Regions from separate parts of the Homo sapiens genome. Here region 1 is linked to region 2. The links come from fine-mapping of genetic effects on gene expression. A gene starts in region 2. The other region holds a variant in brackets. All regions are shown on one strand. Distances are between the middles of the regions. Region 1 has its middle 34 kb from the start of HTR1A. Region 2 holds the start of HTR1A (5-hydroxytryptamine receptor 1A).

The links.
Region 1: its variant is fine-mapped to the expression of HTR1A in cerebellar hemisphere (GTEx, PIP above 0.99).

Annotation. Positions count from the first base shown.
Region 1 is chr5:63,920,358-63,935,793 of GRCh38, reverse strand. No RefSeq gene overlaps it. Among named protein-coding and RNA genes, the nearest start is that of HTR1A, 34 kb to the left of the region's middle. The variant C/T (reference allele first, on the strand shown) is at 7,192.
Region 2 is chr5:63,955,817-63,971,252 of GRCh38, reverse strand. It overlaps HTR1A (5-hydroxytryptamine receptor 1A), which reads left to right and starts at 8,808. Exons shown (of 1, transcript NM_000524.4): 1 at 8,808-13,379. The coding sequence starts at 9,534. The coding sequence ends at 10,802. RefSeq lists an enhancer at 9,094-10,071 and a silencer at 10,710-10,931.

The DNA.
Region 1 (15,436 bases), 35 kb after region 2:
GCACGGAACAGCCCCTACAACATAGAATAATCCCTCGCAAAATGTCAATATTGTTGAGAAACCCTGTTTTAGAATATTTAACATCTGAGTTATTTTAAATTCCCTATATGATAATTCCAGCATCTGTGTCTGAGTCTGAGTCTGGTTCTGTTGATAGCTTTGTCTCTTGTCAGCATGATTTTTTTTTTTTGTCTTCTCACATGCCTCATAGGGTTTTTTTTTTTTTTTTTTTTTTTTTTTCTGAAAACTGGACACCTTGTGTAGGACAGTAGTGATTGTGGTCAACAGTTTTTGTGTCTGGAAATGATGATGATTTTCCTTCTGCTGTGGCTTTAGCAGGAGGATTTCCATTAATCTGATTACAAATTAAGTTAGTTTGAGGTTTGTTGTTGCTATAGATATTCTTTATGCACTACAGGCTTCAAATGCCTTTAGCAATGCAATACCTTGTGTTTAGGGTGGGGTTCATTTGCCAATGGATTTGTTTCAGTGCTGCTTAACTCTCAGCTTTGGGTGTTCCCACTGTGCTCTTCCATGGGGAGGATCTGTCTTCCCTCTTGTAACTGTGAAGGCAATATTCAGTGCTTGCACTGTAGGGATGCTTTCTCTGTAGTCTCACTAAATTTTTTTTTCTTTTTTGAGATGGAGTCTTGCTCTGTTGCCCAGGCTGTAGCGCAGTGGTGTGATCCCAGTTCACTGCAACCTCTGCCTCCTGGATTCAAGCAATTCTCCTGCCTCAGCCTCTGGAGTAGCTGGGACTACAGGCGCGCACCACCATGCCTGGCTAATTTTTGTATTTTTAGTAGAGACAGGAGTTCACCATATTGGTCAGGCTGGCCTTGAACTCCTGACCTCATGATCCGCACGCCTCAGCCTCCCAAAGTGCTGGGATTACAGGCGTTAATTTTTTTTTAATAAGTGTTTGTTGAGGTCTGTGTATAAAAAGCCTGCAATATGGTACAAAATTCCCCCAAATTTGTGGCCTCCATGGGTTCTACATACTCTTGCCAGGTCACAATCTGCCTCCAACGATTTATTAACTATTCTAGCTACTTCTTCATATAGGTGTTCAGCTGCATCTGCTCTGCGTAATAAAATATTTATGTTCTCTCCTTCCCTTACATGCGTTTGTCTCTCCTTAGATTTTAGGCTAGTTGACTGCCTTATGACTTCAGCTTTTTTATGGATTTAAGAAAGGACGTATGATTATAGCTTACCTTACTTTTTTGTTGCTGTTGTGAGTGTGAGAGCGATGCTCTTTGTGGCTCTCTGTATCCTCATGTGGAATGGGAAGCTTCCCTTCCAGGATAATCTTGCTATAATGGAGCCAGTTCTCTAAGTTGTGCTCCCAACCTGGTTCACTCTGGCCTCAGAGTCAGGTTAGAGAGGCTGCCTCAGAGTCACAGCATAGCAGGAGAGCAGGGTAGTCAGTCCCCCCCAGCTGATTTTGGTTTGAGTGATGGGCATGGGCTCCTGAAGTTGGAAGCCATACTTTCTTTAGTGGTGTAGAGAAAATCTAGGATTTAAAAATGAGTGTAAAATTCTAAATGGGCTTCCCTGCCCAAGGCATGGTGGTTAGTGGCTGAGTAAGGCTTAGTGGACATGAAAGAAAAACAATGTTACTGGCGGACGCCAGTGTTTTCTTCTCATCTTAGGCAGGCTTAGTGTACATGGCTTACTTTCCATGCCATTTGGTAAATGGATAATGAAGCAGGAGGGTTATGGAAGATGGTTAATATTAATAAATCCAAAATTGACTAGAAACTGGGTTCAGGGTCTCAAAATACTCCCCTGACAGTTAAAAAACATGAGATTAATCCCTTTTAGAACTAGCTGTTTATATGTGTGTGTATGTGTGAGTGTGAGTGTGTGTGAGTATGTGTGTATCTCTATTGTAAAAATTTGAAATACCAGAAAGCATAAGGAAAGGGTACATTTCACTCATAATACTACCACCCAGAGATAACAGGTCTTAACATTTTAATATCTTTTTCTCCTATGTAATGCTTTAGATACTTGGGATCATATGTTCATAGTTCGTGACATGATTTTTTTCACCTTCTGAGCATTTTTTAATATCCTTAAATATTTTCAAGATAATTCTTTTATATGCCTATACTATAATTTATGTAGCTAAGTTGCCTTAAATTTATTTTACTACTACAAATATCATTACAATAAACATCTTTCATCAAACTCTTTGTGCAAATTTATGATTATGTCTCTAGATAAATTCCTAGAAAGTAGATTTATGAGGCCAGATGGTTTGCTCAGTTTTAGACTTTTGATGCTTATTGCTAAATAATCTTTCAGAAAGATCATGTGATTTACTTTTCCATTGAGATTACACAAAGTTTCTGTTTCTGAAAGGAAAGTTTCTCTACCTAATTCTTCACCATCATAAAGGAGGCTAGAGGAAGAAGTAACAGAGAGAAATACTTTTTATGAGAAAAAGAAGATTGAGGGACAGTTTTATGGGTTTTGAGTCTATCAGATAATTCCTAGTTGAAAACACAGCTGACAGCAGCTTTATGAGTAAAATGATAGATAAGATTTGAGAGTCTGCATTATTTTAAACATTCACTTAAAAATAAAACTAAACTAAGCATTTTTGGTCCTCTTAAAAGTTATTTGAGTTCCTTAAGATTTCAAACATTTTCTCACTTTCTAATGTGACTTGGGAATTTTCTTTTTCCTCTTTACCATTTGTCAGTGTCCTTTACCTTCCTTGGCTCCTGGCTAAAGTGCTTACACCTCCTGAAGTTATTTCTGTTTTCCCTAAATCTGGCAGTTGTTCAGTCATTTTTAGGATTGTGTATGGAAACTATCATTTGTACTTTTGGTTTTTAGCATGAGGCATGGTGTTTAATCATTTTATGTACTTAGCTATGTCTAAATACCCTTCAAATACAGGGATAGAGTCTTGTGCTTTTCCTGTTTCTCCAGGGGTAAGGGCAGTGGTTTGCACCATTGTAGTCTGTTGATCACTTTTTGTTGATGATGGCCAGACTGAATGCCATAAGAGCTGGGACAATACATTTTTCCTCATTATTCTATCTCCAGTGACATTTGAGCTGCTTGAGACAGCTGGAGCTCAAAAATACTTTTTGAATTAATACACGAACAAATAAATTTGTTACACATTTTGTATATGAGGGTCATCTTCTGAGAAATTATGTGCTTCATTTTCCTTTATAGCAACCTCATTGGGAAGGAAGGAAATGGGATTTTTCCTCTCTCAGAGGGTGTCTAGGCTGAGGTTTTCTTACTCATAGATGTTTTCCACTTTGATGATATTGGCAGGCTGACATGTAACCTTTTAAAAGAAAAAGCCATTAAAAAGTCTTGTGTGCCTAGTGTGTGTGTGTGTGTGTGTGTGTGTGTGTGTGTATTTGCGTGCCCATTTAAGGCAATTGAAGCAATGAGATCTAATTTTCTCAAAAGAGAGAAGAAGGAGCCAATCCAAGTTTACAGTGTTGAAAGGAGAATAAATGTGTAACCTTGGTTTTATCCACAAAGAGTGGGAAGAGGAAAGGGTTGTAAGTCTCTTGGAAGGTAAAGGTCTGAACTCACTTAGACGCTGCAACTCTGAGGGTCAGGAGCCTGATGAGATGCCTGTGAGGACAGAGCTATGGCCTTAGGGTCAGGAAAAGCCTCTCCATTGCCAGACTTTGCCCAAAAATGAGTGAAGCTGCTAGGGAGCTGCCCATCAACAAATAGTGCTTGTTGGCTTAGACCACAGATGGCACAACAGCTTGGACAGATGGTGAGAGACAAGTGCTCCACAGTAGCTTGGTATGGCCTCAAAGAGCAAATGGCAGTGGTGGCAGCCACAGACTGAGGCTCTTCCCTGCTCAAGAACTGGAAAGCTGGAAGGTCAGTTTTTATTAATCTGTCAATCTATCTATCTCAGTGATTCTAAGGAGTGTGCAGAGCACAAACTGACTAATATCAGTGTTCTTGCTAATATTAGTGGGAAGGGACTTGAGCTACTTCTAATTAAATTTGAAGAAAATTAAAGGATTGTAATATAACCTGGACCTTGTATGTTACAGAGCAATCTAAGCCTCATGTAATTATGATTTTGTTTTCTGCAGTTATATCCATCAGGACTTCCCAGGGTTAAGAGGTTCTTACACAGCTCATAAGGTATTCTCATCTAATAAGCCATCTGCTGGCAAGTGGAACATTCCAGCTTCCAGTCAAAATTTCAGTCTGGGAATGCCAAACTTTCTGGAATAATTCAGAAACCTTAAATTATTGTTGATGACCTTAGTTTCCCTTTTCTCTGTATGGAGCAGTATTGAGTGAATGCATGCTAGGCTATGTCACCATTTTCATTGCAAGGTATAATTTTCATGAGAAATGTGTGTCGTGGGAGTGTTTTAGGAAGTATTCTTCCAAGCTTTACATTTAACATAAAAAAAGCTTGACGTCTGTCTTTTGACTTAGACGAGGTGTTTAGCTTAAGATTAAATTACCTTTTGAAACGTTTACTTGTTGAATATGTGCAAATTACATTTAAGATGTGAAAATAGCCATATGTGAAGAGTTCTTGCTAGCACTTTGCCATCAAGCTTCTCTTTCCTTTGTCTTTGTATTCTCTTATATCGTCGTTATATTCTCTCTCCCACAATTAGGAAATGAGATTCTCTGTGCATTGTCAATTATAAAGGAGTTGAAACTTGAGTCTATAATGAAGATCAGGGTACAGCTGGATTAAATACACCCAGCCTGGGCAACATGGTGAAATCCTGTCTCTAGAAAAAATATGAAAATTAGCCAGATGTGGTGGTCCTGTGCCTGTAGTCCCAGCTACTAGAGAGGCTGAGGTTGGGAGGATTGCTTGAGCCCAGAAGGTTGCGGCAGCAGTGAGCTATGATCATGCCACTTGCAGTCCAGCTTGGGCAACAGAAAAAGACCCTGTCTCAAAAAAAAAAAAAAAGCTTCTCTCTTTCTCTTCCATAAGCATAGGGTTGGGGGACACGTTGCTGGATAGCCACACATCTCCACTATCTCCACATAATGCTCTGTCATTGTAGGAGAAAAATAAAAATGCTGCCTTTGGAAATGCCATTAATCAGGCAAAATTTTATGAAATCAGCAAATATTTTAAAAACATAAGTGAAAAGTTCTATTTGTTGGATAGTATAAAGGTATTTTTTTTCCCTTGAGAGGATGAAACCAAGAATGATTATGAGCTCTTCTCATGGAGAGACCTGCCTCTACACAGCACCAGTTAGCTGAGTGCCTCAGATCCCACAATAATTGCATTCACGTGAGTTCCAAGTACTTCATGGAAGGTCCAGAAATGCCATTGTTTTGCAAGGTCATTGCACTCGTTATTCTCCACCCTCTGCCTCATTTTCCTTTCTTCTCTGTTGTGGGCTATGCCAGCAGGCTCCCTTGCCTTGACTTCTACTTAGGTTCAGCCAGTGGGAGTTTTCCACAGCAGATGAGAAAGCCAGCTGTGGGATATGATGAGGTTTCTCTTCAGATAATCTGATTAATCTTTTATTCTTTAATTAATAGTACCCCCCCAACTTTTCCTTTTTCTCCTTTTTTCCTTTTTGACTTTGTTAGATGCTCAGGCACACTACAATACCAGGCATTATCAGTAACAGCTCACATTCCTTTCCTTATTTGGAAAGAGGACTAACTTTCTAGCTCATAACAGACACCCCTTCCCCTTCCTCTCCACTTTCTTTTACATGCCCACCTTATCTAAAAAAAAATCAAATGTTTAGCCAAGCGGATTAGTTTAGATTGTACGACCCGACCCCAGCCAATGGGGAAAGGGTACAGGGGCAGGACTTGCATCAGGAATAAAGGCTCTCGTGCCCTTTGTTCAGGTGTGCTCTCATGGTGACTGGCCAAGGAGACACCACTCTGCGCAGAAGTAAAATTGCTTTGCTAAGAATCCTTTTTTTCGAGTGTTCAATTTCTTTAGGCTTTTGAGGGTTATTTCTAACACAGAGGAGAAAGAGGGCCTAGTGTTTCTTGGTCTCCTCTACTTCGCTTTGACTTCTGTGTTGCAATTGCAGAAATGGCTTTTTCCTTTTCAGATTACAACTCCGGTCAATTTTTTTTTTTCTTTTTTTGAGACATCGTCTTGCTCTGTTGCCCCGGCTGGAGTGTAGTGGCACAATCTCGGCTTACCCCAGCCTCCGCCTCCCAGGTTCAATCGATTCTCCTGCCTCAGCCTCCTGAGTAGCTGGGACTACAGGTGTGCACCACCATGCCTGGCTTAATTTTTATTTTTTTTTGTATTTTTAATAGAGATGGGGTTTCACTATGTTGGCCAGGCTGGTCTTGAACTCCTAACTTCGTAATCTGCCCACCTCAGCCTCCCAAAGTGCTGGGATTACAAGCATGAGCCACTGTGCCCGGCCTCTCCAATCAATTCTGACATGCCTTTGGTTACACTGCTTTGCTCCCCTTGTCTCTTTTAGGCCTGAAGGTGGAAACTGTTTCTTGCTGGTGTGGTCCCTGGCTGCTTCTGCATCCCTTGTTAGTTTTCTTAATTCTTGCCTCACCTCTGTAAACTAATAGTCTCTCTATGAATTTAACTTCAAAATCCCAGCATGTCTTTTTTAGTGCTAAAAAAATGGATACATTAGTGCTAAAGCACTAAGGTTTTTCTCCAAATACCAGGATGATGGGTTGAGGGCATAGACTTTTGGAACTATTCTAAGCCTAGAGGTCTTTACAGATTCCTTCTTGGATATAAATGGTAATTTTATAAAATATTTTTAGTATCGATTGGAGTCCCCTTTCAAAGAGAAAGTCTTAGGCTATTGAGCCTGTTTATTATGAGCTTAAAGAGAGTGAACTTAGTGAAAAGGATGTGGATTACAAAAACAGACTGCACAAACTGGCACTCTTCCTCTGGTTCATTATGAAAGTAGTACTTGCCCAGTGAGTTTAGGCCTAATTATTTGTACTGGGTCAAATTAGGATCTAGACTTAGGCCTGCGAGAAAGGCCAAAAAAATAATAGTGGCCCATTTTAGGAGCTATTGATGAGCAGGGCTTCTGTCTGTGTCTGTAGAAGGTCAAATGTTGGATAGCTGATTGAACACCAGGCTAATTCCAAGTGCTTTCTAGTGATTTGCAAAGCAATCCATGCCCTTACCATCTGGCCTCAGAGCTTTGTGAACTATGATACATGACAGGTTTGGCACCAAACAGC[C/T]GGGAGATGGAGGAATAGTAGAGGTTGGCACTTCAGTCTATGGCGTTGCTTTTCTCTTAATTTCTGGATTAATTCCAAATAAAAAAATGAGAACTTTGTTTGTTTTGTATTAATGCTTCAGGAAGTCTTGTCTTTCTTCTTAATGAGAAGGATGGGAAAGGGAAGAGGTTAGGAATTAAAGACCATGTCATTTCACACACCTGGGGTGGGCAGGTGGGCAGAGAGTGGTGGAGGGGCCCATTTAAGGACTTTACTCTGGTAACCCTTGAAAAGAACATTAGTTATATCTAGGAACACTTTAGATAAATAGGAACTTTAAATAAAATCCAGATATGTATCCGTTGAGAAACTGTGATTTTTTATTTCTTTACTTGAAAATAATACTTTGAATTTACTAGTACTCAGTGTTTATTACAAGTTTATGGAGTATTACCTGAGAATATACAGTCCAAGTACTCTTCCAGATCCTCTAAAATATCTTCAATGGGTTGTCAGACAAGAGGGAGCTGCTGCCTTATACTGCATCATTTTAGCGTTTTTCTTTCTCGGGTGCATTCATTCAACTGGATTTTTGTTTTTGATTTTGTTTTTGCATTGTGTTTTTGTTGACCTTCATTGAGAGACATTGGTAGAAACAATCCTGAATGTTCTCATTTTTGTATTTACTACTGAGATATTGTTGAGAATGCTGTTATTTACATTTCACACAATCTTCTATATGCAGACTAATGGGAAGAATGTTTCTCAGGCCTTAATTTGAGGAATACTTGTGTGTGTTTGAGCAACTATGTTGTTGTTTTTTTAATCTATGGACACTGTGGGTCATGTAAGTGATGATTTTTCTTCTTGTCATTTTGGATAATAGAAAGGTCAGAGCCTAGTTCATGATGTGTCTCTGAGCAATGATGTTTCTATTTTAACTTTACTTCGTGACTTTATTTCTTTTCTTGATTTTATTTTTCTGTCCTCTTGAATTACTGTATTGAAAAATTTTTCCTTATATTCTATTACATATATTTCTAAGAGCTGCCTCAAATGTATCTTTGAACACAGTAAGGGTATAAACAAAATAATAAATAAGATAGCAAAAACAAATTTGTAATGCTTACTGTAAGAATCATTTTTATGTCTATACAACCTTAAAAATAAAATAAAATAAAATAAAACCCCCCAAATTAAAAAAAAAGTGATGGCCAAAATATAAAATATTAAAATTATTTATTATTTCCCATAATTAGATAACAAAAAAAATTGTTATATGCAATAAAATTGCCTGTAACTAAGTTAATTTTAACTGATTTATGTGATTTGATTTGGACTATATAAAGCAGAATCTTCTAAATATCTGGCATTGTATACTAATTGAAACAACATCATTTAGGGGCATTGGATTAGTTGGAAGGAGAAGTGTGGCTTCAGAAAGAAAATTATTGGGGCTAGTGCAAAATGTGGGTTGACTAGAATTTTTACTAAAAATCTTCATTTTGGAAACAGTTAATATGTTAACATAGTTATTAAAATATTAACCAATTTATGTATACAATTAGACTTTTCACATAGTCATTTAACACAGAAATGTGTTTCATTACTCTTAATTGAGTATTTTGAATCACCAGAAGGTAAGGTACTTGGAAACTTTAGACTTTCTTAATTGGAATTAAAATTTCCAACAGGCAGACTTTTAAGGTCTTAATTGTTTGATCCTCAAAATTGTAAGATGAGGCAAACCATGGATAATTAACTGACAGATGGCTAAATGGCTTTATTATCATACAGAATTTATGAGTTAAACATTCAATTGGGAATTATATTTAGTAGGATAATTAAAGATAAAAACTTTAATTTGTTTAAATAAATCATTTATATTTAGTAGGACAATTAAAGATAAAAAATCAAAGTTTTTTTATCTTTAATTGTCCTACTAAATATAAATGATTCATTTAATCATGCAATTTCTTTGTTTCACAACTTTTTGTGAAAGATTAAAGTTTTTATCTTTTAAATTTTAACAGGGTCCCACAAAAGGCACACCCACAAGGCTAAAGAAAGAGTAAGACTTCAAGGAAAGAAAATGAACTTCAACTCCCTCTGAATAATAAAGCAACATTAACATACGTTGGTGTTTTTACATCCCACATGCATAAAGAAAAGTTAGCAGTGGTTTTTTCACTTGGTTTTCTCTCTCTGGACCATTCACATTATTTGTTCTCACAAACATCTGCTCTACTATGGGGTAGGAAACATGACTAGGATACCAAAAATAATAACACATTCATCCTGTCTACATCCAAAAGGGTCGAGTGGACCAAATAAACAATTAGACAAGAGAGCCAAACCACAAAGACATGAAATTCACATGGCATGGCAATGTAGAGCGTGTGTTCTAGCCTGCATTACAATAAAATTCTGTACATCTTTTTTTATTTATTTTGCTTAGGATTGGAAAAGCTTTAATCATGATTTCCCACCTAAGCTGTAGTTCCAAACTACAGAGAACATTTTGATTTCCAAAAAATTCATCTAGTTAAAAAAAAAATTAAGAAAAGCAGAATCTAGAATTAGGAAACAGGAATCTTTAAAACATAATAACAAAGAAACCTGCCAAGTGATTTGCTGCTATGGCCTTACCTACCCTTGTGTTTTCCTCCAGTGATGAGGGGTTGGATGGGGTAGGGCTCAGGGCCTGCAGCATAAATGGCAGTTTGACAAAGAGATCTTGTACCTGACCCTTGGTGTCCCAGACACCAGACATTCCAGATCTGAAAACATCTGGAAGATAATACTAATGAAATGGGGAAGTAAGGAATACACTTACAAATTTGGGCCACATCAGTGGATTTTAACACTGGACATGCTTGACAATTATATGTGTAGCTGCTTTTACCTTACTATTATTATTTTTTAATATCTTAATGACTGCCTGGTATTATCCAATTCTGACATTTCTCTGTATGCTTGTGGTAGAGCAGGACAGGAAGTCTTTGTATTTGCTCTTAGGATTGAAGGCTTTATTACTTGGTCTGGCCTTCTCTCTGTGGGTTTCAGATAAACTCTTGACTCACTGAGAGTTTGGAAAACTACACAGAACACATCACCTGTATAGAGGATCTTGAACTCCTTCACAGATTCCCTTTCAAAATCACCACTGGCCCAGAATTCTTATGAGAAAAAAAAAAGTTTGCTCATTAGCATTGTAACCACTGATATTTTCTTATTCTTGACCAATTTAGATAAATTGATACAAGGTTTATTAGTGCTGGTGGATTAATTTGCTTTATTGTCAAGAAGATGAAAAATGAAATGGGCCCTGTCTCAGACACTGCCTATGGATGATTTATGCTGTCAGCAATTGATTGATCATCTTCCCTTTGGAAACTTCCACCTTTGAGGGAAACATGGATATATCTAAATGATAAAATTAGGGCCAAACCCTTGAAAAAAGGAAGTAGAAATGATCTGAAACTTGCCTTGCTGTGAAATTAGCAAATGAGCACTTGAGTATTACATTGAAGATCAGGGTTCTTACTTGCCAAAAGGTAGCCTCAGGTAAGATACATAATGTTTGGCTTCAATTGTCCATTTGTGAAAGGGGACAATACTACCCACATGTATTAGTCCATTTTCATGCTGCTGATAAAGACATACCCGAGACTGGGAAGAAAAAGAGGTTTAATTGGACTTACACTTCCACATGGCTGGGGAAGCCTCAGAATCATGGCAGGAGGTGAAAGGCACTTCTTACATGGTGGCCACAAGAGAAAATGTGAAAGAAGCAAAAGCAGGAACCCCTGATAAGCCCATCAGATTCATGAGACTTACTTACAATCATGAGAATAGCATGGCAAAGACTGGCCACCATGATTCAATTACCTTTACCTGGGTCCCTCCCGGATTAGGTGAGAATTCTTAGAGCTATAAGTCAAGTTGAGATTTGGATGGGGACACAGCCAAACCGTATCACCACATTTTTATTATTTCTTTCCTGAGATGCTGAGAATTTCGTGACAAATAAAACTAACATAATATTTATTGAATGTCTACTCTCTAGGCCTCAAATGGAACACTAGTGAGAATATAAGAAATAATATTTACAAATCTCTGGGACTTAGTTTTGTCATCTATAAAATGGGAAAATTAGATTCCACAACTAATTCTGTCAAGCTCTAAATTTGGTGGCAATAGCCACTTATTAAGCATTTACTAGACGAAAGCACCATATGAGGAACTTTATATACATCATCTCATGTAATCTTCACAACCACCCTGGGAAGAGTGTCCTATTTTTTACCCTCATTTTACATCTGAGAAAACCAGGACTTAGGGATATATTTGTCCTTGGGAACAATTTAAAACAACAAGTCTCGGATTAGTGACATTTGAGATTTATGTGTGGAAAGGAAATAAAAAATCAACAACCAGTTACTTCCCAAGGACACAGAACTAGAATATGAACACAGTCCCTTGGACTCCAGCCAATGCCCCATACTTCCTCCTAAGGGTGTTTGCTCAGCTGAGTTGTTACACTGGCTTTATGGAATGCATTTGTTCTGTTCCCAGACAGCTGTCCACCACTCTTCCCTTTTCAGTTCTTGTGAAGCAGCACCATTACCTGTATCCAGTGATGGAGGGATTTTATTTTGTTTTGTTTTTTTGTTTTGAGACAGAGTATCGCTCTGTTTCCCGGGCTGGAGTGCAGTAGCCTGGGATCAGGCTCACTGTACAGTGATCAGGGCTCACTGTAGCCTCAATATCCTGGGTGCAAGTTATCCTCCTACCTCAGCCTCCCTAGTAAGTGGGGACTACAGGCATGCACCACCATGTCCAGCTAATTTTTAAATTTTTTTGTAGTGATAGGGTCTCACTATATTGCCCAGGCTGGTCTCAGATTCTTGGGCTCAGGCAATCCTCCTGCGTTGACCTCCCAAAGTGCTGGGATTACAGGTGTAAGCTACTGCACCCGGCATGGAGGGGTTTTGAGTTACTGCTTGCAAAATGAATAGAAACAAAGTTTGTCTACTTCAGCACTATCACTATTTTGGTCTGGATAATTCTCTTCGTGCGGGCTGCCATGGGCATTATAGCATGTTTTAAACCATCCTGGCCTCTACTCACAAGATGCCAGTAGCAACTCTCCAGTTGTGGCAACTAAAAATGTCTCTAGAAATTATGAAATGTCTTCGAGGGGCAAAATTATCCTTGGCTGAGAACCACTAAGCTAGATTTTGACAGTGGGTTGATAATAAGCCTTTTTTTTTTGGTATCATGTGAAGCACTTTGGACACTTAATAATACTGACAAAGCCAGCTGGCCAATGAATTCGTGGTTGCAGGAACCTCTTGTTTTCATATTGTTAAATTGATGATTGCATTACTTGGAACATACATACAATAGGAAATTAGGTAGATGTACTGTCAGCTTTCCAGGTTCTTTGTGGTGGGTTCTGTAGATTAGCCTATGAGTTATTTCATGGAGAAGCGTGTAGATCAGTGGTAAGAGCACAGGCCTGGAGTTAGGTGACTTTACTCCCACACACAACATTGTCGTTTCTCAACAAAGCATTGCCATTACTCAATGACACATTTAGACTATTTGGGCCTCAGTTTCATTATTTGCCAGATGAGGAAATTGGGTCAGATAATCTCCAAGTCCCTTTCTGCTTTAATAACTAATGATTTTAAGGTCCAAATACTGAATAAATCATATGGCAAATTATTTCTTTCTGAGAACATTGTAGTTTGTGACAGTGTAGCTGCTTATTCAATTACAATATGGCAATAAATGTCATACCTTTCCCAGTTAATTCCTGGACTTTTGATTTCCTTTCCATACGTAAATCTCAAGTATCACTAATCAGAGCCTGGTTGTTTTAAATGCAGCCTTAAGGAGGTCTGACAAATAAATTAAAGGAATATTCCAATTTGGCTACAGCTGGCCTAACAGAATGGAGAAATCCTGCTGAAAACCAGACTTGTGTTTGGGATTCACAAATTTTATCCCAAAAAACCCGATTTTTATTTTTAAAAAAACCCAATATATTTGCTTTTCCTTCCAGTATTCAAGTAAGAATTTTCTGGTTGGTTTTATTTCCTCCACCACAAAGATTTAAAGAAGAGGGCAGCAAGAGCAGGGTGACACTACACGAATTCTGTCACATGGCCTCAGAGGTCTCCTAGTTGGAGATTCCGTTAAAAATAATTTTCTTAAAGACAGAGGTACATTGTGGCAACAAGACTGTAATGCCTCCTGAAGTTATGCAGTGTGGCGGTCCTCTTAGTAGCCAGTATTTCTGTACAGTGTGGGTTTCTGGTGACAGTGGTGGGGTGCTTTAAGTTCTGGGACCAGCAAATATGCTCCTTTTCAATTCAGGAAGAAAGACCACTACAGGGAATGCTGTTGGTTCCCTGTTCCACTACAGGGAAAGCTTTGCCACAGGCCTTGTAGTTGCTCTTTAAAGGCATTTTAAACTAAAAAATGCCACAAACTCAACTGGCCAAGTGCTTTCATCTAAATTATTTCTTTTTTGTGTGCCTTAACTTAATAAATGGGACCATTATTTATCTAGTTTCTGAGCCAGAAAACTGGGCGAATTCCTCGATTTTTCTCTTTTCCTTTCTTTACACGAAACACAATAACAAGGTCCTTTCAATTTTTCCTGCTCATTTGTCTCAAACCAGCTCACCTCTATCCATCTCCACTGTTAATACTTAGTTCAGGCCACCATTACCACTTGTGTGGGCCCCTTTTATTGCCTCCTAATAGGCTTCCTAGCCACAGTTCTTCCCCTTTCCAGTCTAGACTCTGTACTTAAGGCACAGTGATCTTTCCCAAATTCAAAGATTAATTATCTTGATATTTTCATACTGGCAATCCCTCAGAGGTTTTACATTGCCTGAAGGCTTTCTGTAATGGTTTTCAGGTCTATCATAATTTGGCCCCCCTTTCCCCTCTAACATCACCTCTTACCACTTCCACCTTCTACTCTGTGTTCTGGCTCTACTGAAATTTCTGTTCCTCCATAACATTGTGTTCCCTCTCTTCTCCAGACCGTTCTCCACATTGTTCCCCACACCTCAGACACTGTAAAGAAAACTTACCAGCATGTAGTCAGGAATGTAGGAATATTTAGTTATTGGAAAAACTGCAATTTACAAAACATTTCTTAACAGGGTGTTTATCATTTAGGAATTTTGGTCAGAAGCATAGAGACCCTATGGTTAATTTCCAAAATTTGCAACTCAGAGTCTTTTCTTACTTTGTGTTTTGTTACTTTTACCTTTTCTTCTGTCTAATCTAGGCATGTGAAAACAAAGAAGTGCCTTTGTAAAGGTGGTGTGTGTGTGTGATAATCAGGTTAAGGGGAGATTCTGAAATAGGTCTGATCCAAGTGTCCACATCTTATACCATCTATGGACAAGGCAAACTTTTATGCTTATACTGCAGGGAAGAGGATTGGAAAGTTGTGAAGTATATGAAAATTAAAGACTAGAATAAAGCTAGGAAAAGAGGAAAGCAAAGCAGGTTAGTGGTGAAATTGGAACATCATTGTGGCCAACAGAATGTGGATTTCTCAGAACAGTTTAGATCCTCTCCATGGAGATTTCTTTGTCAGTGGGGTGAAAATTTATTTGTATTCTGTAAATTAATGTGGTATGCCAGAGAGTAGAAGAGATATATGATCTGGAAGTAGTGACTTTTCATCAAAGAGATCAATAGCAGCACAGCAGCACCAAGGTTGCATTGCCACTGACTTTCAGTTGCTGAAGGACTGAGAGCTGGGCTTTAGTGAAAAGAGGATATGCCCCTCCCATAAGTCAGGCTGATTTGGTGCTTCATGCCCATAGGCAATGCGGAAGGAAATTAAAATATGCTCAGAGCTTGAGTTCTGAGATGGATGGTGAGGGTGGCAGAATAAAAAGCAGAGGAAGCAATTCTAATACGACCATCCCTTTCTTTACTTGTGAGATAATTCTGATGTCAGAAATGACTTTGGAATGAAAGACCCAGGCCTTTTCACTAAAATTGAAGAGGAAATTATGCTTTAATATAGCCTGAAGCTCCAGCCAGAAGCCCTCATGGTAGAATGGGAAATAACCATTGCTGGACTACCCCAAATTCCCAACTGGCAAACAGATTCAATACCATAGTCTAGAAAATAATTTATGAACAAGTAAATAATATCTGCATCATTATTTGGTTGAGAAATTTTGAAGAATACCTGCAGGAACCCCACAGTATCCAACGTACC
Region 2 (15,436 bases):
AGTATGACAATTCCTCAAGGATCTAGAACCAGAAATACCATTTGACCCAGCAATCCCATTACTGGGGATACACCCAAAGAGATATAAATCATTATATTATAAAGATATATGCACACATATGCTTACTGCAGCACTATTCACAATGGCAAAGACATGGATCCAATCAAAGTGCACATCAATGATAGACTGGATAAAGAAAATGTGGTATATATACACCATGGAATACTATGCAGCCACAAAGAGTGATGAGATCATGTCCTTTGCAGGGACATGGATGAAGCTGGAAGCCATCATCCTTAGCAAACTAACACAGGAACAGAAAACCAAACACTGCATGTTCTCATTCATCAGTGGGAGTTGAACAATGAGAATACATGGACTTAGGGAGGGGAACAACACACACTGGGACCTGTGAGGGGTAGGGGCAAGGAGAGGGAGAGCATCAGGACAAATAGCTAATGAATGTGGGGTTTAAAACCTAGATGACAGATTGATAGGTGCAGCAAACCACCATGGCACACCTATACCTATGTAACAAACTTACATATTCTGCACATGTATCCCTCAACTTAAAGTAAAAAAAAAAAAAAAAAAATTGACAGGGCGTGCTGGCACACACCTGTAATCCTAGCACTTTGGAAGGCTGAGGCAGGCAGATTGCCTGAGCTCAGGAGTTTGAGAACGGCCTGGGCAACACGGTGAAACCCTGTCTCTACTAAAATACAGAAAATTAGCTGGGCATTGTTGTAGGTGCCTGTAGTCCCACCCACTCTGGAGGCGGAGGCAGGAGAATTGCTTGAACCTGGGAAGTGAAAGTTGCAGTCATCTGAGATTGCGCCACTGCACTCCAGCCTGGGCGACAGAGCAAGACTCGGTCTCAAAAAAAAAAAAAAAAAAAAAATTAGCTGGGCCTGGTGGCACATGCCTGTGGTCCCCAGCTACTTAGGAGGCTGAAGTGGGAGGATTGCTTGAGCCTGGCAGGTGGAGGCTGCAGTGAGCTGTGATCACACCACTGCACTCTAGCCTGGGTGATAGGATGAGATACTCTCTCAGAAAAAAAAAAAAAGAAAGAAAAATAAAACAAAATACGACAGAGAGATTAAGAGACATGGAGGACAGGAGAAGTTTTCTTTTTCTTAGTATATTTACAATTGCATAAGCAGAGAATAGAAGAATGAGGGAAAGGCAATATCTGTTGAATTAATTGCGAATGAGTGAATCAGTATTTATGAAAAGTGTAAATCCTCAGTTTCAACAAGTAAAATGAATCCCGGGAAAACTAAGAAAAAAAAATCCACATCTTGACATATTAAGGTGAAATTTCAGAACAAAATAAATACCAGAAAAGGTATTAAATGCGGCTGGAGTAAAAGGAAGATTTCTTATACATAACTGACAACTGAGAGTTGATTTTTTATCAATGACAACACAAAGTGAATAATATTTATATAATATTTTCCAGTTCTGAGAAGCATATATATAATATATATATATATACACTCACACACACACACAAGCTATCAATCTAAAATTGTGTAGTTAGTTAAATGAGGGGGAAATAAAATGTCAGTCAATAAAAAATAGAACTTATTAATATTTGTAACAGACCCTTATAAAAGAAATTCCAAAGGATATTCTTAAGGCAGAAAGAAAATAATTTCAGAAGAAATAGCTGAGCTACAAGAAGAAATGATAATCAAATAAATTAGTAAACATGTGGGCAAGTAAATGCAAATATTCATACTGAAATAAATAATGAAATAATCATATTTAATTAACGAAGTAAAAGTCAAAATCAAGGTAACTAATTATTTCACAATACCCTAGAAGATGGGGGTGATCTGAGTTAAAGTATTTAAAGGCATTTGTATAGCTTGAAAGTAGTGAAAAGTATAAATAATCTTTATACTTTAATTTGTTTATGTATGTTAAAATTATAAGATAATCCAGAAATAGGGTGTAGAATTTCTATAATAATGCAATAGAGGAAGAAAATGAATTTTAAAACTTATTGGGTAGAATAGAAGGAAAGAGTAAGTATAAGAGAAGCACCAAATACACAGTATGTTCATGTTTTTTAACATAAAATAACATGGTTAAAAGTATTTATTGAACTCCTGGACTCAAGGGATCTGCCCACCTTGGCTTCCCAAAGTGCTAGGATTACAGGTGTGAGTCACCGTGCCTGGCCTAAAAATAATTTCTAATACAAGAATAGTCATAATAAAATTAAAACTAAACTTACCAGTTAAAAACTAAGATTTTCAGATTTGAAAAGAAAGTAACTATCATATTTGTATTTGTATAAGAAATTAACCTAAAACTTGAAGATACTGAAAAGACAAAATTTAAAATATAGAAAAATATATAGTAGGCAAAAAATAACAAAAAATAATTAGTATAGACAAAGTAGACTTTAAGACAACAGATGTTATTAGGGATAAAGAGGATAACTATTTAAAGCAGCAGGGTGATAGACTAGTTCTAACATTGTATGTACCTACTATCATGTCCTCAAAGTATGTTAAACAAATATAGACAGAACTACAGGGAGAAGTTGTTAATATCCATAATAGATAATGGACTTCAGTAAGTTAAGACAAACAAAACAACAAACAACAAAAGAACCAATTTAAAAATAAGCAAAATATGTGATCAAAATATATGATCATATATTAGAATATATGATAGTCCACTGTGAAGAAACATGAAAAAACAGTCAACCCTGATGAAGCAATGGGAATGTAAACCATTTTTTAATGGTTGTATTAGTTTCCAAGGGCTAGGAACACAAGGAAGCACCACAAACCAGATGGCTTAAATCAACAGGAATGCATTGTTTTACATTTCTGGAAGTTGTAAATCTGACACGAAAGTGTTACAGCCCAAACTGACAACTCTAAGGGAGAATCCGCCGTATGCACCTGTCCTAGGTTCTGGTGGTTGCCAACAGTCCCTGGTCTTCGTTGGCTTGTGGTAGCATAACTCTAATCTTTGCCTCTGTTTTCACATGGCATTCCTTCTTTTGTGTCTGTGTGTCTCTGTGTCTTCACATGGTATTTCTTCTCTATGTTCAAATTTCCATCATTTTATAAGGACACCAACCATTGGATTAGAACACCCACTGATCCAGTATGACTTCATCTTAACTTGGCTACATCTGCCAAGACCCTATTTCTAAATAAGGTCATATTCACAGACAACGTGAATCCTTTATCCTCCTGGGGGACACAATTCAACCCACAGCAGTGGTTATGAAATTTTATATAACCAGTTTGGAGAAGAATTAGGTTTTATCTAGTCAAGCAGAATTTGGTCATACCTTAGGACTCGATATTCCACTTGGTATATTTAGATCCTTGCTACTCTAAATATAGTCTATAAAGCAGCAATATCAGTGTCATCTGGGAGCTTAGTAGAGATGCAGGGTCTTGGGTTGCACCCCAGACTTACTATGTGGAAATCTGCATTTCAAACAAGATCCCCATGTAATTTATTTGAAACATGCTAATCTAGTCTACTCTAAGATACATGGATGCAAAAAGACATACACGAGAATGTGCATAGAAGTGTTATTTATAAGAGCAGAATCTAACCAGAGAATGGATATGTAACTGTGGCACTATTCATACAATTTAAATCCACAGAACAGTGACAATAAATGATGTAGAATTATATGAAGTAGCTTGTATCAATACAGACAAATTTCACAAGGATAATGTTGAGCAAAAAAAAAAACGTTGCAAAAGACTGTATATAGAATGATACCATTTCTCAGTTGCTTAGGGAAACATACATATCGTATAAGAATACAAAGACATTCATGGGAATAATAAACACTAAATTCAAGAGTAAACAGGAACTTCAATTGAATCAATGCTATTTTTAAAAGCTTTTCTTAAGCACATAGGCATTTATTATATTATTCTTTATATTTTTAATAAATCCTATTTAATATATAATAAAATGTAAAAAAATTAAGGAAATAATTCAAGGCTAGTACGTTGCAGAGTAGTTATTTGAATATAGAACTGTGGCCCTGAGTGGCTATATTCAACCAACACATTACTGCTTCAATACACCAAATGACACAGTTTTAGACCAGTATTTTATAATCACAATTATTGCATTTGTATAATAGCATGTTGTATAGAAACATTAAAATACTGTATAATATTAAGCACTGATTTAAGTTTTACACAAAAATGTCACTTGCCAAAGAAAATAAAAATGTGGGCATTTCCACCTGTTAAGTTAAACAGAATAACTGCATTTTGCTTCAATAATTGTTAGATTGAATTTAATTTCCAATTATCTTTAGATTAATAGGAAATTTTGAACTAACATTCCAAGCATTTTTCTCACCCCGACTATGCTCTTACTCTTTCAAAAGTGAACAATAAAAATATTGACAGAAGGACAGCATTGTAAAAGTACATTTATTAATGCTTGTCACTATAAATCTGATAATTTCTCACAATAAAAATACTCTTTTTGGGTTTTTACTGAACTTTAAATATTTTATTAGGACTTACAAATTTCAAATACTTATTTTATGCTTTTGAACAAATGCATGAACTTCCAGGGAAAGAGTAGGGTCGTTTTCAATACTGATCATTGAACTTTCATTGGCATGTTCTTTTATTCCCTTCACTAACTTCTGATTATGTAAAGAAGTCTCAGAATGCAGCAATCACATCTTGTTTTCTACTTGTCTTTTACTCAGAATTTCCCAGAGAACTGGAAGCTTACCAAATACTTTAAAGAATGGGGAGAATGTAACATCCACATGCAAATCTCTTTCCTAATATATCCTCCCATGAAAGAGACTTTTTTTTCAGTCTTCACTCTCTAAGGCCATCCAGCTCTCTTTTTCCATACTTTAGAGCGATTATCAGTAGAGAGAGAATTAATATTTTTACTTTGCATCTGTATTATTACTATTATTGTTTAATCATTATTGTGTGTTTATTATGAGCCAGTGAAATGTGTTAAATGGTTTAATCTTCACAAGTCTATTATTACACTCGTTTTATTACTGAGGAAATAAGAGGGTTAATTAATTTGTTCAAGTCACACACATAGTGAACACATGTTATATTTTTCACTCTTTATGTACTGTGCTTTTAGTATGTGTACTCACTGCACTAAGTCAACCATACAATTCTCAAAAGCAGAGATTGAAGCTTCCAATGTTTGTGTTTTATCATTGAAAACCCAGTGCAATTCCAGGCCTGCAAGTGCCTGACAGGGATAAAAAGCAGTGAAGAAATGATATTATTAGAGAAGGTAAATGGTGAGGATTAGATAAGAAAAAAGCAAAACACAACAAAAAAGTCAAGAAAACAATACAAAAACAAACCGTGTTGTTTTAAAGAAAAATTATTTTCTTGGCATTTTGGTTGCATTTCTTGAATCTTTTCAGTGATAATCAGAAGACCACATTTCCCAAATTATGTAAGGAAAATTTCCTATAAGTTGTTTCTCCTAGTCATTTCCAATCAAAATTCATAGTTCTGAACAAAACACAATTGCCCTACTGCTACAGTATTTGGGGATTGGGAAGAATTAAATTTAGAATAATATTTTTAACCTAACAAAATAATTGATTCTAATTTCAATTACATGAAAAAAAAGTAAAAACTTTTTTTTCAGTAGGAGCTTTTAGAAACAACTTTTATAATCTCATAAGCAAATATTCAACTCTTTACTGTATAGATTCTTTCTTCAGTAATAAAAACAATTCAGCCGTAGTTTGGGGATAATGGACAAACATACCAATTACTGAGAAACTCCAACCATCAGCCTTCAGTAATGATAGGGCTTCAAGGTTCACAGCAAAACTTCAGCTTAAATCTTTTTAGTTTGTGTCCCTGGTCAAGGAATTACATTGAAATGCTGGGTGTGTATCAAATTTCCTGTGAAAATGTTAAAAATATTTATCTTTTTAAAACTATTTTAGAGAAATTTCACATGATGGATGATATATCATACCCTAAATTCATAACCTGACAAGTTTATGCTGGCATCTAGTAAATTCAAAAAGGAATAAAGGCAGAATGACTAGAATTTTTCTTTTCAAATGATATCATCAATAATATCCGTTATAAAGCTTGCTTTTCTTTAGGTTAACTTTAGAGGCCTTGAAGAATAAGAGCTCATCTCTTTATGCAGGAGCTTTGGTTTGCAGCATTTACTTAAGAAATATTTGGTATTCTGTATCTTTAAGAGTTAAACATAGAAGAATTGGCTAAGTGAAAATGAAGAAACGCAATATCATTCTGCATATATCATTTATTATATATCACAGTATTATTAGTTTTAAAAAGTTAAACATAAATATCTATTAGTCACTTGCAGACTATGGAACCATAGTCAGTGCTGCATACTTTCATACTTCTGTTTCCCTCCTAGTATTCATAAGTGTGCCTTTAAAAACTTTTAAATTGTAAGAAATAAAATGTTTGATATATTATGTATATTATTACTAAGAAAAAACTTGAATTACTTTGGATTTTTAAAAACTTTGATAAATTCTACATCATAGCATATTGAAGCAGAATAACAAATGCTATACCTCAGGAATATTAATTCCAGATTTTACAGCATTTTAACTTTCTTGATGAGAAAAAATAAATTTGTCAGTTATTAAACTATTTGGGATCCAACAGATGAAAGCAGAATTCTAACTAACATATTTATTGATTTATTTGTGATTTACATATTTACATGTGTTGTTTGACACAATTCTTAATTATGTTCTTGATATGCATATATTTGCTTCTTAAATTTTAAGTTTCCTTTATTTTACTTTGTTTATAGTCTCAACTATAATTTCAAAGTTTAATTTTAGATAATTCAGCTTTTAAATATTTTCCCATTATAATTTTTGGACCTCTAACTCTATTTTAACTGTAAATATAGTTCTGTATTTGTGAAGAGACTTTAGAAGTGGAAATAGATACCTTCACAAATCTTAAAAAGACTTCTTCAGAGTCTGTAAACAGCATTACCATGTATACTTATCTCTTTCTTTTCAATGCCATGAATCATCACAAATGGCAGGCTCATTGTGGTGGCATGCTGAAATGATTGAGTGGGAACTGTGCCCAGCACTGAACTATAAAAAAAAAAAACAAACAAAACCTTATCCAAACACACTGTCCTGTATTGTAATGCATTGGCCCAACTGGATTCTTTTTGATGCTTTGGTGATTGCTCTTTTGTTTGGGCTTGGAGAATTCAGAGCTATGAAATTCAGAGCTCAGATTTGAACACAATATTAAGATTATTGCAATCTGTAGTGAATCTGTTCATGTTATCCAGTGTCAACTGCTTTTGAGATTGCATTCCTTTCACCTCAGGCATGCAATCAGGATGTATAAGTGAAATGTTGTGTGGTATGTTTACTGTAGTTGCTTAGAAGTCCCATTCTTTACCAATGCTCAAATGTGATTAAATTTGTTTTTCTTGTTAAAGGAAACAGCTTAGAACAAACCCTTGTAAGTATCTTTATTTTCAGTGATTTAACATTTCCAAATGTTAAATCATTTGGAAAATGCAATACTATTCGTTTCTCCAACAAAAGGTAAATTTATGTCAGTTCCAAAGTTCAGGTTATGACAGCACAAAACCAACACAGGTGAAAGTGTTAGCCTAGCTTTATTAAAATGGCATTCCCAGTTAGAACTTGTGAATGACAGATACTTCAGGCTTTCGAAGGAAGCTAAAACATATAATAGGCCTGATATATAAGGTTCAGAGCAAAAGAGGGCACTAAAATAAATTTTTAAAGAAAATAGGAAGGAGACAAAACTCAATACTACCTTGTCTTTTAATAACTGTCTTCCTCTTTCTAAAAGTTGTTGTATTTCCTCAATACTTGCTTCATTTCTGCATAAGGGTTTCCAGATGGCACTCTAAAACATTTGCCAGAAGGTGGCGACATAAAACCTCATTGCTTAGAACTGTCCCAGGTGCTGAACCCAGTTTCTGAGATTAAGAGAGGCTAGCCGGCTAGCGAACCGGGATTCCACCAAGTTTCCCCCAGAGGTTTGCAGGCTCTGGTAAGAAGTGCAAAAGGCCATGTGAAATGCCAGGCTTCACTTAGAACACATATGCAAAATATTTCCATCCCTGAATTTACTAGCCACAAAGCTATGGGAAGTGGCAGTGTCACTGAAATTACAAGTGTAGTAGTGATGGAAAAGTGTGTGTGTGTTTAGAATATATATCACACTGAGTTTTGTTCTTCATTTCGAGATGCAGTTGTTTACCTCTCCTTGTCCTTTGACACGTCCTTTATAATTTCGTTCTCTCCCGGTTCCCCAACGTTAAAAAAAAAGTCACAGGCAATATTCTCCCTGAGGGAGTAAGGCTGGACTGTTAGATGATAACGGAGGTACCGTTTTGTTGTTGTTGTCGTCGTTGTTCGTTTGTTTTTGGAGACGGAGTCTCGCTCTGTCGCCCAGGCTGGAGTGCAATGGCGCGAGAACGGAGGTAGCTTTTTAAAAAGGAAGACACACTCGGTCTTCTTCCATCAATTAGCAATAATTGGGAGACTGACCCAGGACTGTTCACCTTCCCATTCAGGCTCCCTATGCTTCCTTTTCTCATCTCCTATTGCCACTCTGGGATGCTGACACGATTTAAGAATTTGGCAGATAATATGAGGCAAGGAGTAGTTGGAATTCCCTCCCCCAAGTTTTTCCAACCCCAGTTTTGCTGGGTTGGAGGCGGAGTTTATTTGTTACAACCTTGGTCTGACCGGCAGGGATCTGGTGTGTGTAAGTGAGTTCTGAGTCTCTGTTGACAAAAAGAGACTCGAATGCAAAGACGCTGAGCTAGAGGGAGAGGAGGGCGGGGACCCAGAGGAAAGAGGCACTCCTCGGGGTTGGGGAAGTATTAGGAGGGGAGGGTTAGAGTGGGAGGGAAGGAGCCTGGCTTTCGAAGCGACTCACAGAGGGATAAATAAAGGGAAGTGAGGAGGAAGAGGGAGACTGAAAGGGAAGGCAGGTGGGGAGAAGGGGGACGAAAGAGGCAGAAGAGAGAGAAGAGAGGAGGAGAGAGGGGGAGAGAGGGAAGGAAGGAAATAGGGAGAGGAGGGTCACAGAGTGACCGTGGAGGATGGGGCTTCTCGGTTCTAGATATTTCTGGGATTGGAGACTGTTTGCTAGTGGGGAGACTCCAGCTCCGGCAGCCAGTTCGGGAGCGGCAAAGTAAAATGGACAGCGACAGACAGACGTTCCAGCCACCTCTCCGCCGCCGGGAGATCCTGGAGCTGCTTTCAGGCCAACTCCAGTTTCCCAGCTGGAGCTTCTGAACGCGCTGGACTGCGAGAGCCCAGGGAGCGCCTGAAAGCTGCTCCTCGGAGATACCCTTCGCCGAAGCAGTAAGAACTTCCTGCTTGGGTCTCTGCATTCCCTTCCTCCGAAACTTCCCAGGAGAAGGGCGGAAGACCCCAGGGGAAGGGGCGAGGCGAATCTTCGCGCTGCTTTTTCTTCCCTCCCCCTTCCCGCGCCGGGCGCGCAGGCATGGATGTGCTCAGCCCTGGTCAGGGCAACAACACCACATCACCACCGGCTCCCTTTGAGACCGGCGGCAACACTACTGGTATCTCCGACGTGACCGTCAGCTACCAAGTGATCACCTCTCTGCTGCTGGGCACGCTCATCTTCTGCGCGGTGCTGGGCAATGCGTGCGTGGTGGCTGCCATCGCCTTGGAGCGCTCCCTGCAGAACGTGGCCAATTATCTTATTGGCTCTTTGGCGGTCACCGACCTCATGGTGTCGGTGTTGGTGCTGCCCATGGCCGCGCTGTATCAGGTGCTCAACAAGTGGACACTGGGCCAGGTAACCTGCGACCTGTTCATCGCCCTCGACGTGCTGTGCTGCACCTCATCCATCTTGCACCTGTGCGCCATCGCGCTGGACAGGTACTGGGCCATCACGGACCCCATCGACTACGTGAACAAGAGGACGCCCCGGCGCGCCGCTGCGCTCATCTCGCTCACTTGGCTTATTGGCTTCCTCATCTCTATCCCGCCCATGCTGGGCTGGCGCACCCCGGAAGACCGCTCGGACCCCGACGCATGCACCATTAGCAAGGATCATGGCTACACTATCTATTCCACCTTTGGAGCTTTCTACATCCCGCTGCTGCTCATGCTGGTTCTCTATGGGCGCATATTCCGAGCTGCGCGCTTCCGCATCCGCAAGACGGTCAAAAAGGTGGAGAAGACCGGAGCGGACACCCGCCATGGAGCATCTCCCGCCCCGCAGCCCAAGAAGAGTGTGAATGGAGAGTCGGGGAGCAGGAACTGGAGGCTGGGCGTGGAGAGCAAGGCTGGGGGTGCTCTGTGCGCCAATGGCGCGGTGAGGCAAGGTGACGATGGCGCCGCCCTGGAGGTGATCGAGGTGCACCGAGTGGGCAACTCCAAAGAGCACTTGCCTCTGCCCAGCGAGGCTGGTCCTACCCCTTGTGCCCCCGCCTCTTTCGAGAGGAAAAATGAGCGCAACGCCGAGGCGAAGCGCAAGATGGCCCTGGCCCGAGAGAGGAAGACAGTGAAGACGCTGGGCATCATCATGGGCACCTTCATCCTCTGCTGGCTGCCCTTCTTCATCGTGGCTCTTGTTCTGCCCTTCTGCGAGAGCAGCTGCCACATGCCCACCCTGTTGGGCGCCATAATCAATTGGCTGGGCTACTCCAACTCTCTGCTTAACCCCGTCATTTACGCATACTTCAACAAGGACTTTCAAAACGCGTTTAAGAAGATCATTAAGTGTAAGTTCTGCCGCCAGTGATGACGGAGGAGTAGCCGGCCAGTCGAGGCTACAGGATCCGTCCCATTCACTATGCTTCCCCCAACCCTAGGGAATCAACACTTAAGATAATTCGCCACTTCTCCTCTTTCTCTCTGCTCCGCTCACGGCTTGCAGACCTGGTCCCCTCCCCACTTCCTGCTCCACGGCAGGGCCCTTTGTGCAAAGGAGACCCAGCGGAGGAGCGTTGAGAGCCCAGGAAATTCAGAGAGTTTGTGAGAAGCGACATTGGCTCAGACTTCGCCTGTATCATCAGTTTTGATCCCAGTAATTGCCTCTTCTCTCTTCTATCTCCTAAATCTTTGCGGTGGATGTTTAATGCTTAGTTCAAGGCAGAAAATCCAAAAAATAAATAAACTGTACACACAGCCGCCGCGCCCACTAAGGGGCTCCACCCCATCACCCAACTTCTAGAACTTGGACTTGAGGTTTGGGAATTTGCTCCATCTCTCCCGCCCTGTGGCCCTTGAAATATTCACCTTTTTCTCCCCATTTTTATCTTTTCTTTTTTTCATTGCTTCCCTCTCTGCCCTCGCCCATCCTTATGCACGAATCTGCTGGTCCGGAGAGGCGGAAGAGGCTGCTTTTCCCCGTGCCAGCGGTGCCCCCGGGATTCCCCGTCTTCTCGCAGACTTGAGATTAACTCTCTCGTGCAGTGCACAACCCCTATTTCCTTTGTTTCCTTGGACTCAAAGCAAGTGGCTAGAAGGTATCTTTTAGAGTGGACTTGTAAGTACAAGGCCGGGCCAGTGGGGGAGAGCAAGGAGGAGGAGGGTGTGCAGACCACTTTGTTTATGCTTGCCTTGGTGTCAGCACTCACCAAAGAAACTGACAATCATACAGTGGAGAGAGCGGACGCTGTTTGTACAGGTAGCTGGCGAGTGTGTACGACCTGACATCGCCACTTACTTACTGCGGGAGGCGCCAGCCGGCCGCTGTTTGCGCTCTGGGGAAGCTGAGAGGCCTGGAATCCGCGCGCCTCCCCAGCCATCTGTGCTCTCGCAGCGCGCTAGGCGCTCCCGGCTGCTGACTTACAGGATCTGGGTTCCTCCGCCTACGCTCTGGGGCGCCCTGAAGCGCGGGTAGACACCTGAGGTTTTTGCCTTAGCCAGTGGCGCAAGATGCCGCGGAACTCTTGGGATTGGAGAGACCAAGAAGGCTTTAAAGGGGCGACACGCAGGGGCGGCAAAGAGGAAAGGTTCCCCAGGGCGCGCGTGCCCAAGGCTCCAGCTGGCTCCCCCAGTAAAACCTGAAAGAGCAATTTTATCCTTACGATGTAGAATTTTTCCTCCTAATTCACGCTCTTGTCCTTTTTGGATCGGGGAATAATTCTGTTTAGCGTGTCCCAACACTCGCTGCATTTGCTTTACAGGACATCCAAGACACAAAGTTAGCAGAACTTTGTTTTCCAAATAGGAATTCTGGGCTTTCAATGGAATGCCCAGATAGTCCATAGGTTAGCACTATCTGTGACAACAGGCAGATAGTTTAAATAGCAGGGTCCTAAAGGACTAGTTAGGAGGTGGTCTTCCTGGGGAGGCTGAGTCTTTTATGGGATTAATTGCTCCCTAGCGTGACCATTCTGCTGTACCAAGGGTCTGCGGAAACCACCTTTTTGCCCTTTGAATTGTGCAGCATTCCAGGCTTTCTCTCCTTCAGTTATTCTTGAAGCCTTGCCACTCCTGCCGAGAAACTGGTTAAAATCTTTGCTGCCCCAGAAAGGGAAGTTATTTAGGTACTCTGGATGTAAATTTCCAACTACATGATGGAGATCTAGAGGTTTGTCATTGTTTGATCTAGCCTCCAATTTTCTTATGAATAATGGTCTTGTTTTCCAGAAAATTCACAAAGTAATTGATCCCTACTCTTTTCTCTCTTCAGCTGTACCTTTCGAATGTTTTCATTTGCTGTTTTGAGAACCGTATTACATTTACAGATTGCAAAAATTGCCAGTGAAAAGTTCATTTGTTTATAATTAAGAAAGTGAAAGGACAGCTCTGTCAGTTGAAGCCATTTTATTGTTTGTCAGACTGAACAAAGCTTTCCTTTGGTGTCTGCTTCTGTATTCTAAACTGGAAGTAGACATCATATCCCAGCTAAACAGGGAAAGTTTTAGAACTTTGGGAATAGTTTGTCTATGCATGTATAATGCTGAGAAGGGTCTGCAGTGAAGAAGATAAGATAGACTTCTCCAGCACAACTATTACTCATTTGATAATTCAGTTTCATTTTTGCTCACATAATCTAAGTAAAGCCATATCAGAAACCAAGTTTTTCTGTATGTTACACTAAATTTTAAGAACAAAGTCTATATTTAAAATAATCCAAACCCCAAATTTGCTCATCCAAATTATGTCTTGGCCAGCAAGTTTTACATTAGAAGTTTTGAGACTTCCATTTATTTGTGTCTTTTACAGAATTGTGTGACAATGACTTTTGGACATTTGTTCTTTCGGCTTTGGAATATTTACACAAGAATGGAGAAGGAACATCCAACTGGAGCATAATTGTCAAGGCAATAGAGAATTTAGAGAAATAAAATAGCTGCATATCTCAAAAGAGTGCCTGATGCTTTCTTTTTACTTTAAAGTATTTATACTAAGGTAAAGTGCTGATGCATCAAAATTGCCTTCACTTTTCCTCGTGACAATAAAAGACTTTAATAATGGTAATGCTAGAATTAACTGATGTCAGTAACACATGCATCTTTATTTCACTCAAAATCTCTACCTACTTGTATTTATTTGTATAATTTTAAAATTAAAGTTAAAAAATACAGTGATTAAAAGAAGATCCTTCTTTACAGGTCAGGGATCTGACTTAGGGAAATAAGTGTAGTTTTCAACAGTAAAACTCATTCTAGATAGGTGATTTCTTTCAAAAAAAATCTGCCTCTGGAAAAAGAAAGTCACATATCATTTAGGCATAAAACCATGCATTTTCTATGACTGGCACCTGCAGGTAACATATAGGTTTCTTTCTAACATGGACAGAATTGAAGATATATGGAGGAAAACTACAGTCTCTGGGGAAAGCAACAGGGGTCCAATCTGCCTTTTTAAAACAGTGGGTGGTGCTGAGATCCCTCCTCTGTCTACCCTGCAACATTCAGCTGGAGGAAAATAACCTCCCCTGTTTCAAAAGAAACAGTTGATTGTTTTGGGGTTCATCAATTAAAAGTAGAGGGGCATTTTATTTTCTGGCTGGGTCTTCTTCCATAGTAGGGTTTTGTATATATGACGTATTACTATGTTAAAATTAATTATTATGCTCTATTATTTCCCTACTTAAGTAGTCAAAAACACCTCTTGTTTCTGTTGTTATGTTTGTTCATTCTGCTGCTTTCTGGTGTCAGAATGATGGCTGCAGGGCAAAGTGAGCATGGGTAAACCTCCAGTAAACAAAGGTCATGGCCATTATTGCCAGAGCAGAGAGCACTCTGAAGCTCATGAAGCTTGGTTCAGGCGATGTATGTACATACACATATTATCCCAAGAGTGAAAAATAAAATCAGGGTGCTAGTGGTGGCTCTTACCTGTAACCCAACACTTTTTGAGGCCTAGGGGAAGCAGGAGGATCGCCAGGAGTTCAAGGTTACAGTGAGCTATGATCACGCCACTACACTCCAGCTTGGGTGACAGAGCAAGACTCTATCTCCAAAAAAGAAAAAAAGAGTAAAATTAGAGGAATTGATAGAATAAGAACTATCTGAAGTTTGTCATTTTCAACATGTTACCTAAATGTGTTCCTGATGTTGAGTAAAATGCTGAATTGGACACATTTTTCAGTTGAATTTTGGCTATTACTGTTCTCGACCCTTGCTCCTTCCTCTGGCATCTCTTCCTCTAGGGACAATGGCTTTCTGTTTTCTACAGGCCTTCCTGTGGCCTCTATCAACACCTCAACTAAGTGAAGGAATTGTTAGTTACTAGTCACTTCCAGTGTGACTAAGAAGCCCTACTAACCCATTTTCAGTGATCATGTGTCAGCTACTGCTTGATAATATTGAAATATAAAACTATAAATTAATATAAGATGCTGTTGTTACCTTAAAGTAGTTTTCAACCAATTTGAATATATAAAAATAAACTGATAAGGCCAAGTAACTACTCATGACAGGGTCAAAGTGTCATATAAACAGGATGAATCACAGGAGTTTGGCTCTATAAGAATTCAGAAGACAAAGATCACTGTGGGCTCATAGTGGGAAGGGAAGAGTGGGTAGAGAACACTGTATATTGCTGTATATTGTATGTAGGATTGAGCTCTGGGCCGACGGGAGGTAATATGAAAAGGCAGACATTCCTTATGAGGTGACAGGAAACACCCTGATCCCTTCTTCCTGGCAAGTGAGGGCCTAGTATGAAATTTCTATCTGATTGCTGGATGTTGATTAATTGCCTGGGTTGATTATGCAAATGTTGATCCTTGAGAAAGATGCAGACTCAAAACCTCCCATGTGTTGTATTAACCCGAAAGGGTCTTGGAAGAGAGAGGAAAAGATGGGTCTAAAGCCAAAGGAATGGCTAGATGAGAGGAAGAAAGTTTTGAGCAGAGTAAGGAGGAGAGCATCAGAATGAGGAGAGAATCATTAACCATTAAAGAGTTGCAACAGG